Regions from separate parts of the Homo sapiens genome. Here regions 1, 2 and 4 are each linked to region 3. Evidence: fine-mapped expression QTL. A gene starts in region 3. Each other region holds a variant in brackets. All regions are shown on one strand. Distances are from middle to middle.

The links. PIP is the estimated chance that this variant, and not a neighbour inherited with it, causes the effect.
Region 1: its variant is fine-mapped to the expression of PTGER3 in prefrontal cortex (CommonMind, PIP 0.95).
Region 2: its variant is fine-mapped to the expression of PTGER3 in lung (TOPMed, PIP 0.92).
Region 4: its variant is fine-mapped to the expression of PTGER3 in cerebral cortex (GTEx, PIP 0.96).

What each region holds. Positions count from the first base shown.
Region 1 is chr1:70,528,457-70,531,221 of GRCh38, forward strand. It overlaps the pseudogene CHORDC1P5. Among named protein-coding and RNA genes, the nearest start is that of CTH, 120 kb to the left of the region's middle. RefSeq lists an enhancer at 228-729. The variant G/A (reference allele first, on the strand shown) is at 1,423.
Region 2 is chr1:71,014,166-71,016,665 of GRCh38, forward strand. The region is part of intron 1 of PTGER3 (prostaglandin E receptor 3); the gene reads right to left. Among named protein-coding and RNA genes, the nearest start is that of ZRANB2-AS1, 31 kb to the right of the region's middle. The variant T/C (reference allele first, on the strand shown) is at 1,091.
Region 3 is chr1:71,046,872-71,049,371 of GRCh38, forward strand. It overlaps PTGER3 (prostaglandin E receptor 3), which reads right to left and starts at 945. Exons shown (of 4, transcript NM_198719.2): 1 at 1-945. The coding sequence starts at 706. It overlaps ZRANB2-AS1 (ZRANB2 antisense RNA 1), which reads left to right. Exons shown (of 3, transcript NR_038420.1): 1 at 1-718; 2 at 1,943-2,117. RefSeq lists an enhancer at 359-942.
Region 4 is chr1:70,569,233-70,571,997 of GRCh38, forward strand. No RefSeq gene overlaps it. Among named protein-coding and RNA genes, the nearest start is that of LINC01788, 140 kb to the right of the region's middle. The variant G/T (reference allele first, on the strand shown) is at 1,055.

The DNA.
Region 1 (2,765 bases), 520 kb before region 3:
GTAGAGATAGAGCTGAACATGTGTGAAAGTCTCTGAGGAGGAGCCCTGTGTGCTCTCTGAATGAGGGGGATAGAATCCCAGGAAGTATGAGCATCTGTCCTGTAATCAATTTCTGCCTGAAACCACACAAGGAGGTGTTTCATGATATCATGAGGATCCTATGCCGCTAAGAAAGAAGGACCATAAAATACAGCGTCAAAGGGAAAATGGTCTGTTGGAATTTTGATTGCCCTGAGGGGTGGCATGGAAGAGCTGCCAGTTTTTCCCATGTCCTTGAGAAGGGCACAGCTTTTAGGAGAGAGAGAGACAGAGAGTCCTGGTGGACCTGCGAAAGTCTCATATTCTTGATGAGAGACACATAGAGGAAAAAGGTGTGGACCGTAAGACCAGAGATGTGTGGGAAGGGAAGGAACTCAGTGAATGCTTGTGTGGACCGTCTTCTGAGCACTGAGTGCGATCATAGTCTCACTAGATGGCAGCAGAGTGTAGGTCCCAGGATATGAAGGGACGATCGGCTATCTCCCCTTTACCCCCAACCCCACATTTCCCACCACTGCTCCTTGCCATGACCCTTCTTCAGGAACTTCTATGCCATCTCTGGGAGAAAGGCAGAACGTGACCAACTAAATTGTTGTGTTTAAGCTGGAATGAATGAGTTTACTCTTAAAGCGGTACAATTTTGTTTTCTGCTTTTGAATGTATCCTGCGGCACCACCAACTCTTAGAATTGTGTAACGTCTAATTCCTTAATAAATTCCCCACTTTATATCACTCATGGAGGTTCTGATTCTCTAATTGAACCCTGATGGTTCTAGGAGTTGAGGTTTGTAATGGTTCCATGAGAACAAAATCTTAAGGATGGTTATTGTGAATTGGTTCTGGATTATCTGGAATGGGTTCTTGGATGAGATTAAATTTATAGGCAGTAATAACTGTGTTTGCATTGGTAAGGAGGACACTTGCTTATAGCATGCAATGGCAAAGCAGTTACTTATCATCTGCAGCCACCTGTAATCCAATGCCAGTATAAGGCAAAACTTTCATTTTGAGCAGTCATAGACAGCTTCAGGTCCTTTCTCTTTAGGTGGGGAATTTAAAATCCTGAGCTTATAATTTTTTCCCTGAAGTTCTCCAGCTCCTCTGGAAGCAGCTAAGTCACTCCTTTATACTCTGTATATTAGGGTGAGCAACGACCCTCGTTTGTCTACAACTGAGGGGGTTCTTCAGATGCTAAAACTGAGTAAGTCCCAGGTAAACGGGGATGAGTTGGTCACCTAACTTATATTCACTGAATTGTTTTATGACAGCATTGACTTGATTAGAGAAATCAGAGCCTTTGAGGACTTGGCAGATGCAGGGACGATGATTCATACCATGTCCCCTCTTAATTTGTATCTTCAGCCTGTTCAGAAGACAGCCAGA[G/A]CTTGGAGAATAAAATTGGATCACTGTAAACTTAACCTGTTGGTAACTCCAATTACAGCTATTTTTCTGGAGGAGATTTTGTTATTGGAGAAAACACTTTGTCCGGCACTTGGTATGCAATTATTGACCTAGTGAATATTTTTTCTTTATACTTGTTAATAAAGACCATCAAAACCAATTTGCTTTGAGTTAGCACCTTCACTATCCTACACCAATTACCTATATCCGCTCTCCAGCCTTTTATCATCATTAGATCGATAAACTGTTTCCGTAAAGGACGAGATAATAGAATTTTAGGCTCTGCAGGCCTCATAAACTTTACCTCATTTTCCTCCTCCTCCTTTATGTCCTCCTTCTTTTCCTTCTTCTGAATGCTTTAAAAGTGTAAAAACTGGCCGGGCATGGTGGCTCACACCTGTAATCCCAGCACTTTGGGAGGCTGAGGCAGGCAGAACACCTGAGGTCAGGAGTTCAATACCAGCCTGGCCAACATGGTGAAACATCATCTCTATTAAAAAAAAAAAGTGTAGTCTGGAAGCTGGCAGCCTTCTCAGTCGTCAGACTGGCGCTAGTGACATGGGAGTGGCTAATGCATCCTCTTGCCGTTCCCGGTGTTTGGGCCCTGCCTGTGACGGTGGGAAAAGAAAATGGCCTTGCTGTGCTACAACTGGGGCTGCGGTCAGCGCTTCGATCCTGAGACCGATTCCGATGATGCTTGCACATACCACCCAGGTGTTCCAGTCTTTTATGATGCATTAAAGGGTTGGTCTTGCTGTAAGAGAAAAACAACGGATTTTTCTGATTTCTTAAGCATTGTAGGCTGTACCAAAGGTAGACATAATAGTGAGAAGCCACCTGAGCCAGTCAAACCTGAAGTCAAGACTACTGAGAAGAAGGAACTATCTGAATTGAAACCCAAATTTCAGGAACACATAATTCAAGCCCCTAAGCCAGTAGAAGCAATAAAAATGCCAAGCCCAGATGAACCAATGACAAATTTGGAATTAAAAATATCTGCCTCTCTAAAACAAGCTCTTGATAAACTGTCATCAGGGAATGAAGAAGAAAGAAGAAGACAATGATGAAATTAAGACTGGGACCTCATGTAAGAATAGAGGGTGTTCAAAGACATATTGGGGTCTAGAAAGTCTAGAAGAAGTCTGTGTATATCATTCTGGAGTACCTATTTTCCATGAGGGAATGAAATACCTAAGCTGTTGTAGAAGAAAAACTTCTGATTTTAATACATTCTTAGCCCAAGAGGGCTGTACAACAGGGAAACACATGTGGACTAAAAAGGATGCTGGGGAAAAAGTTGTTCCATGTAGACATAACTGGCATCA
Region 2 (2,500 bases), 33 kb before region 3:
AACCTAATCTCTCTCTCTTGAGGCTTACACTTATCTGTATGTTCTGCCCTCAGGTCACATAACTTAAATTGAATTCAACATCCCTGAGCATCCAAAACATCCCTAACCACTTAACCACAATTCCAGTGATGGCACTTTGATACACTCACCCTGGATCAACATTTCAGAGTCTGTGAACTCTTCTTTTCCTCATCCTCTGCAATGCCTTTTGCTCTTGCTTCACTCTCATTCTTGTTCAGATCTTCCTCTCATTTGAATTATGGTAATAACAGACACCCAGATGGTACATGTACGGACTGAATGTTTGTGCCTCCCTTCAATTTATATGTGGGAGCCCCAACCCTTTATGTGATGGTATTAGGAAGTGAGGCCTTTGGGAGGTAATTAGGTTTAGATGAGGTCATGAGGGTGGAGCTCCTATAATGGGATTATTATCCTTATAAGAAGAGGGAGAAGAACCCACAGGTCTCTCCTTCAGCCATGTGGGGCACAGCAAGAAGACAGCAGTCTACAAGCCAGGAAAAGGGCCTTCACCAGAAACTGAATCTGGGGGCACCTTGATCTTAGAATCTTCAGCTTCCTGAATGGTGAGAAATAAATGTCTGCTGTTTAAGCCATCAAGTTTACACCTTTGTTATGGCAGCCCAAGCAGACTAAGACAGTGTTTACAGATATCTGCCCATCACAGGTGCAGCTTCCAATCCCAGCTGTGATCAAATCCTCTCCAACTAGAAAATCATCAATGTCTTCCCATTGTCCATCGAACAGAAATTTAACTCTGGTATTCAAAGCCCTCTACAGTACTGTCCAAACTATTCTTTCCAGTTTTGTCTCCCACTAATTGCCTATACAGACTCCAAACTCTAGCTATAGTCCATTGGTTTTATTCTTTCCTCCCTCTTGGCCTTTATTCTTTCTTTTTTCTACCCCTGCAACACTTTTAATCCTCATCATTTCTACTTCTGAGACTTCCAAGTCTTTCAGGACTATCTCAGTTGTTCCTGATTATTCCAAACCACTGGCCTCTGAAGGCCTACAATTGTGTGTGTGTGTGTGTGATATAACCACATATTTGTAGTAGATAGACAGA[T/C]AGACAATACTAGCAGGCATCCACATGTCCCTCAAAAACTTGGACGTATGGGGGAAGAAAATGTGGGTCTCTAAGATTTAAAGTGGACATAACATCAACACGTAGGAACCCAGCTCCAAGGTTACTGAACTTGACTGCAAGCAATTGAACAAAGTATCGACATATCTGAAATCGATTTGCTTTGGGAAAAAGGATACTTAACCATCAGGTTTGAGTATTTTCTATTCTTGTTGGCAAAATTGACTACTATTGTGAGATAAAAGATGTAATTGTCTATATTAGTTTGAAGTAAGTAAATATTTGATTCTTTTAATTCCCCATCTTCTGTGTCTTTTTCCACTAAGCTGATAATGACTGGTCCCAGTGTTGATAAGTCAACAGGAAAAGAGAGCTGAGTCATAGGATTTCTGGTATTGCCAATTCTGCTCATGTATACTCAATTTTATTTCAAAAATACAATTATATAACAAAAAAGCAGGTAGAGCAGGTTAAGCAGACAGACAAGAGAGAGAGGAAATAATACACGAAAATTCTTACAAGACTGTGTGACACTGGTATCCAGCCATTTTCCCTTTTGTCTTATTTAGTCACAGTTTTTATTCTTAAACGAATCCCTGGCAAAGGGGATGGGAATTTCCAGTTTTGGCTTATAAGGCAAACTCATGCTCTGGGGCTTGACTCATATTTTGTTTTTTGAGACAGTGTCTCACTCCGTCACCAAGGCTTGGGTGCAGTGGCACAATCATAGCTCACTGTAGTCCTGAACTCCTGGGCTCAAATGATCCTCCTGCCTCAGCCTCCCGAGATGCTGGGATTACAGGTATATGCCACCACACTCAATTAATATTTTTATTTTTTGTAGTGACGGGGTCTCACTATGTTAACTAGGCTGATCTCAAACTTCTGGCTTCAAGCAATCCTCTTGTGTAATTTCTTTCACAGGAATTTTTCCAAATGATTTATCCAATAAAAGCAAATAGTAGCTATACAATAAATAAATGTTCAGAGGAGCATTATATATGCCAGCAAGAAATTGCAGACACATACATCTCTAACATCAGGTGTAAAGCTTAATAAAACAATAATTCACAAATAGTATATATAAGTATTAAGTGAAAAAACAGAATATAAGATACTTTATATATAAAGTTTTGTTGTTATATTATTTAAAATAGGCAGACTTGTGGAAGGCAATGGAATTACTGCTATTTAACAATAATTTACTTTTAAACAATATAATTTAATTTTAAAATTGTATGTACACAGGCCAGGTGTGGTGGCTCATGCCTGTAATCCCAGCACTTTGGGAGGTCGAGGCAGATGGATCCCCTGAACCCAGCAGTTCGAGACCAGCCTGGGCAACATGGTGAAACCCTGTCTCTATTAAAAACACAAAAATTAGCCGGGCAT
Region 3 (2,500 bases):
AGGCAAAGGCAGAGGCGAAGAAAAGGTTGCCCCAGTTATGCGAAGAGCTAGTCCCGTTGCCCCCTCGCCCGGTGCTGATGAAGCACCACGTCCCGGGCCACTGGACGGTGTACTGGCCCACGCCCAGCACCGGCAGCAGGGCGAAGGCGAGCACGGCCAGCCACACGCCGAGCAGCACAGCGCGGGTGGCACGCGTCTTCATGTGGCTCGCATACCAGTGCGGCGCCCTGATGGCCAGCGCCCGCTCGACGGCCATGGCGCTGGCGATGAACAACGAGGAGAGCCCGAAAACAGTCATGGTCAGCCCGAAAAAGGTGCAGAGCCGCCCCGACGGGTCGATGTGCTCCCAACGCTGCTTGGACAGGTACACGACGATGACGACCGGGGTGGTGAGAAGCTGCCCGACCAGGTCGGTGAGCGCCAGCCAGCCGATGCACAGCAGGAAGGACTTCTTGCGCTTGCTCTCCCGGCGCCGGTAGCTGCGCGACACGAGCAGCATGGCCAGTGCGTTGCCCACGAAACCAGTGAGCAGCATGGTGATCGGGAAGGCCACGGACACCGATCCGCAATCCTCGCCAGACCCTGGAGGGCGCGTGAGGTTGCCCCGCGCCTCGGCGGAACGCTCGGGCGCCCACATGCCTGTGTAGGAGTGGTTGAGGCGGGTGCAGAAGGGGGCATCCCCTCCGTAGCCCCGGGTCTCCTTCATGTTGGCTTCGAGGTGAGGAGGGGATGGCGTCCAGAGAGCCGCAGCGGGAGGGGGCAGACGCGGCGCGGGCGGCGGCGGAGGTCGGCGTTTACCGCGGCTGGGGCTGGGCTGCCCCCCATGGTGCGGGGCGCAGCCGCCGCCCTACTCCGCTGCTGGGACCGCGGCCGCGGCGGCGCCAGGGCTCACTGGCCCGGGAGGGAGCCACGCCTTCCTCTCTGGGAAACCTCTGGTGGCGAGGCGCGCGGAGGTGCCGAGTCCCCTTTATAAGGCCGAGGGGGCGGGGCGCCCGTGGGTGTGGACAGAACCGAGGTGGGAGGAGGGTGCAAAGCAACTGAGCGCCTCTCTTGGCTGTTGCCTATCCTGATCGCCTGGGTTGGGAAGCCCCAGACGGTCTCCTCTGAAACGCCCTGCTCCTGGCCGGACCGGGAGCCCACTGGGGTCTCCTCCAGTTCTCCGCTAAAGTGTCGGTGGACGGCAAGCAGCTAATAAGTAGCACTGGACTTGCGGACCCCAGGCAAACTGCCGAGGCGCACCTGAGCGCTCGTCCTCCTGCTTCTTCAACCACAAACGCTCCTACAGGGACGGGATCCTTCTCCTGAAGTCCTTTAGTAACTCTGGTAAAGTGAAAATCGCCTGTCCTTAAGCAATCCACACAAGCCTTTGCATAGCTGATCGTTAACTTTTTTCCTTTCTGCTTTGTGACTCTAGAGTGATTATAAAAAGGCCAAGGTGTCCTGTCCCCTGGGGTGCCGCTGAAAACTATAAAATTACTAGACAGTGCCTGTAGACTTAAGGGAATAGACACAGGGAAACAAATACATCGGATGGTTGAATTCCAAGACCAAGAAATCCCAACTACTACCCCTCGCCTAATCCTGCCCGCTCCCCTCCCCACCACCCAACAAAAAGGTCAGCTATGGCAAAAGTGGCTACAGGAAGGTGGCATCAATTTGCATATCTGAGGTAGTGAAATCAACTGCTCCCAGCCTATGGGAGTGAGAGGGGAGCAGAAGAGAAAGGTATTCCTTACAAAGCCTCCAACCATCCTTCTTATCTTCATACAATAAGAACTAGAAAAGGTATTCAGATGTTATGAAGGCCTTAATCTATATGGAAACTTTGCCTTTGAAATAATAAACATTGAATGAAAATAGGCATACTTGCTTGCCTCGTAACATCTTTCAGTAAGCCAATATTTTATGTACTTCTCACAAGCATTTTCTCATTTTATCACAGAAATCCTCCAAGGTACTATTGCTATTATTATTTCCCTTAAAGGTGGGGTAACTGAGGCCCCATGAAGTTAAAGAATGTTCCTGAAGTCTCTCAGCAATTCTCAAGTCCCATCTTATTTGAAGCATGTATTCCTGACATGGGTCCCATAACTGCTCTCAGCAGATGAATATTAACGGTGAGATCATCTTCCCCTAATCTTGGGAAAGTCTTGTGTTTTTTGCTTTTTGCCTTTTTACACTGTCTAAGAGATGAAAAGATTTTTAAAAATAATTGCAAAGTTCATTTTTCCTCATATTTAAGAAATTAGACTTAATCATATAGCACTCTAAAGACCATTATTTTGATTGACACAGATCAACTTTCAGAACAAGCCCAATCAGTTTTGCCTTTCCTAGCTTAGCTGATGTTCTGTATGGGTGTTCTTAACTTTTAAATTACTGTTAAGAGGTAAGAATGGGATATGTCCCTCTGCATACTTTATGTGCTGTTGTCTTGATTCTGTATGAGAGTTTGAAAAAATATCACTATAACATTATATGTTTTTTAAAGAAGGAAAAG
Region 4 (2,765 bases), 480 kb before region 3:
AGAGCGTGAGAGGATTAATAATTTAATAATAACTTACATAAATGCTTTGAAGAAATATATATATATGTAGAGAGAGAGGATTAATAATTTAATAATAACTTAGATAAATGCTTTGAAGAAGAAGCAGTGTGTACCTGGAGAAATAAATTATGGGAATTTCACTTGGTCTGAGAGGTCAGGAAAGAGATTCATAGCAAAGAATGTAGGGTGGGGTGGGGGAAATATTCCAGAGAAAAGCAACATGTGTAAAAGGTCCAAGATTGGAAGGAATATGGTGTTTTATGCAAGAGCATAAAACATGCAAGAAAATAACATAGGCACTTTGTAAAGTTCACTCTGCCCACTGTGTAAACAATGGTTCAGAGGGGTTCAAGAACTGATATAAGAAGACCAGTTAGGAATTAGCTGCCCAGGTAAGAAGTAAAGGTCACTAGACCTTGAAGGAGTGCACCACCCAAGCAGCTTTCTAGAGTGTCAATCACTATGGCATACTAAAACCTTAGAGTAAATGCATCAACATGGATAAATTTGTATTTAATAAAACTCTCCTCAGGGAGAGTGCTCACATGGTTTGAAGAAATGTTTGATAATCTACTTGGGGTAAGAGAAACTTACTGTCACCAACCTTCTGACAAGGAACATGTTCCAGTATTAATAAATAGTTGCCATATAAGGATAAGCCATTTTATTTGCAAAAAATGAGGAGAGATGCTGTTGTCTGCCATTTCCCCTGCAGGACTCTGCCTTCTTCTAAACAATATTTGGCAAATACTTAAAGAATTATTTTTGAGGGGCAACAAATTATTAGTTATTCAGGGATGTAGAAATTGATCTTGCTCTAGATAGAATAATGACTATACAGAGAAAAAGATATGAACATACTTGGCACTAGTATATTGAGTATGATTGACTTAATGATGAATTAAAGGAGAAGGCTACATGGAAAGGGAGAGATAGTCATCTGCATGTCTACATTAAAATGTGAAGCATACTGCAAAGTATAGGGAGTTTTTTTTAAGGTAGTTTTTTTTTTGAGACAGAGTCTCCCTCTGTC[G/T]CCCAGGCTGGAGTGCAGCGGCGCGATCTCAGCTCAATGCAGCCTTGACCTCCTGGGATCAAGCCATCCTCCATCGTCAGCTTCCAAGAGATTCCCCTGTCTCTGCCTCAAAGTGCTGAGATTATAGGTATGAGCCACTGTGCCTGGCCAAAAGGTAATTTTTTTTTTTTTGAGACGGAGTCTCGCTGTCTCCCAGGCTGGAGCGCAATGGCGCGATCTCAGCTCACTGCAAGCTCCCCCTCCTTGGTTCACGCCATTCTCCTGCCTCAGCCTCCTGAGCAGCTGGGACTACCAAAAGGTAATTTTTTAAAAAATAATTTGATAGGTAATATACACCCAACAACTTTTAACTTCTAGAGGTCTTGAGAGAAAAGGAAGGCTGAGAAATGGTTTCAAGGGCCCATAAGGAAGGAGACTGTGTTAAATACTATACTTGTTAAAAGAGATCAGTACTAATTGTCTTTTTCTTTGGCTTAAGATATATTATTCCCTAATACTTTTGATACTAATTTGATTTCTTTTGCTATAAGTAATTTTCATTTGACTTAATGAGAAGATTGCAGGTTCTCATTTTGCCTTAATTCTTATAGCCCCTTTCCTATTTCTTTACTTAACGTTTTTGGAGTGCCTGGAATTTATTTACTTGATTTGAATTTGACCCCTGATTAAGCTTATCTGAGGGAATTATTCTTTTAAGAAACAGGTAACCAGGAGACTTGTTCACCACTGTACTACCAGAACATAGCACATAGGAGGACTTGTAATAGGTAGGACTAGGCAAAGTCAAAAGACCCAGTTTATTACACACAATCTTTAAGTTCTTGAAAACATGCATTTAGAAATTGCTAAGGCAAAGCAGATTTTCTTAAACTTAGTTGTAATCATGTGAGAAATTAATTTATTGTTTTTTCTAGGGCACTATAAGATTGATAGTTCTACACAGTAACCTCATGATTAGGTTATCCAAAGAATTTACAGCAAGTACAGCTTGGAAAAGTGTCAGACATAGTTCTTTTGAGAGAGAAGGCCCAGATTCTGAAGCAGTATGACTTTGTCAAATTCTGGGTAATAGTTTGTTGTTGTTCAAAATATGCAGTGTCAGATATGATCTGACACTGCATATATTGAAGTTGGCTAACTTACCATCTCTCTTTTCTCATTCCAAGATCTACTTATAAAGCAATTGTCTGATAATATCAGCCTATGTTCACTAGCATCTGTGTTGCTGTCTATTGGAATTTGTATGGAAGAGCTAAAATGTGCCAAGAGGTGTGCCAGTTCATTTTTCTGGGTGTTTATCATTTAGCCAACAGAGAATCTATTACACAGTGGTTTGTCTGGTCTGTATTTAAAGGTCTCCTGGAAGAGGGGTCATTTGTTTGCTCATTCATTCAACAGATATTTATTGAGCACTTACTATGTGCTGGGTGTTTTTTGTGGTTCAGAAGTTATAATGGTGAACGAAGAGCTCTGCCCTCAGGAAACTTACATTTTAGTGGAATGACATAGAAAATAAATAAGTAAAATACATAGTATATTCCTAGAATGTGATAAATTCTATGGAGAAAAATAAAGCAGGAAAGGGAAAATGTGTATGCTGGAGGGTGTAATTTTTAAATAGAGGGGCCTTGCTGAGACATGTGACATTTGAGCAAAGTCCTGAAATAGATGAGGGAGTGGGCTATTGTGGTAATTTAAAATAATTGGCTTA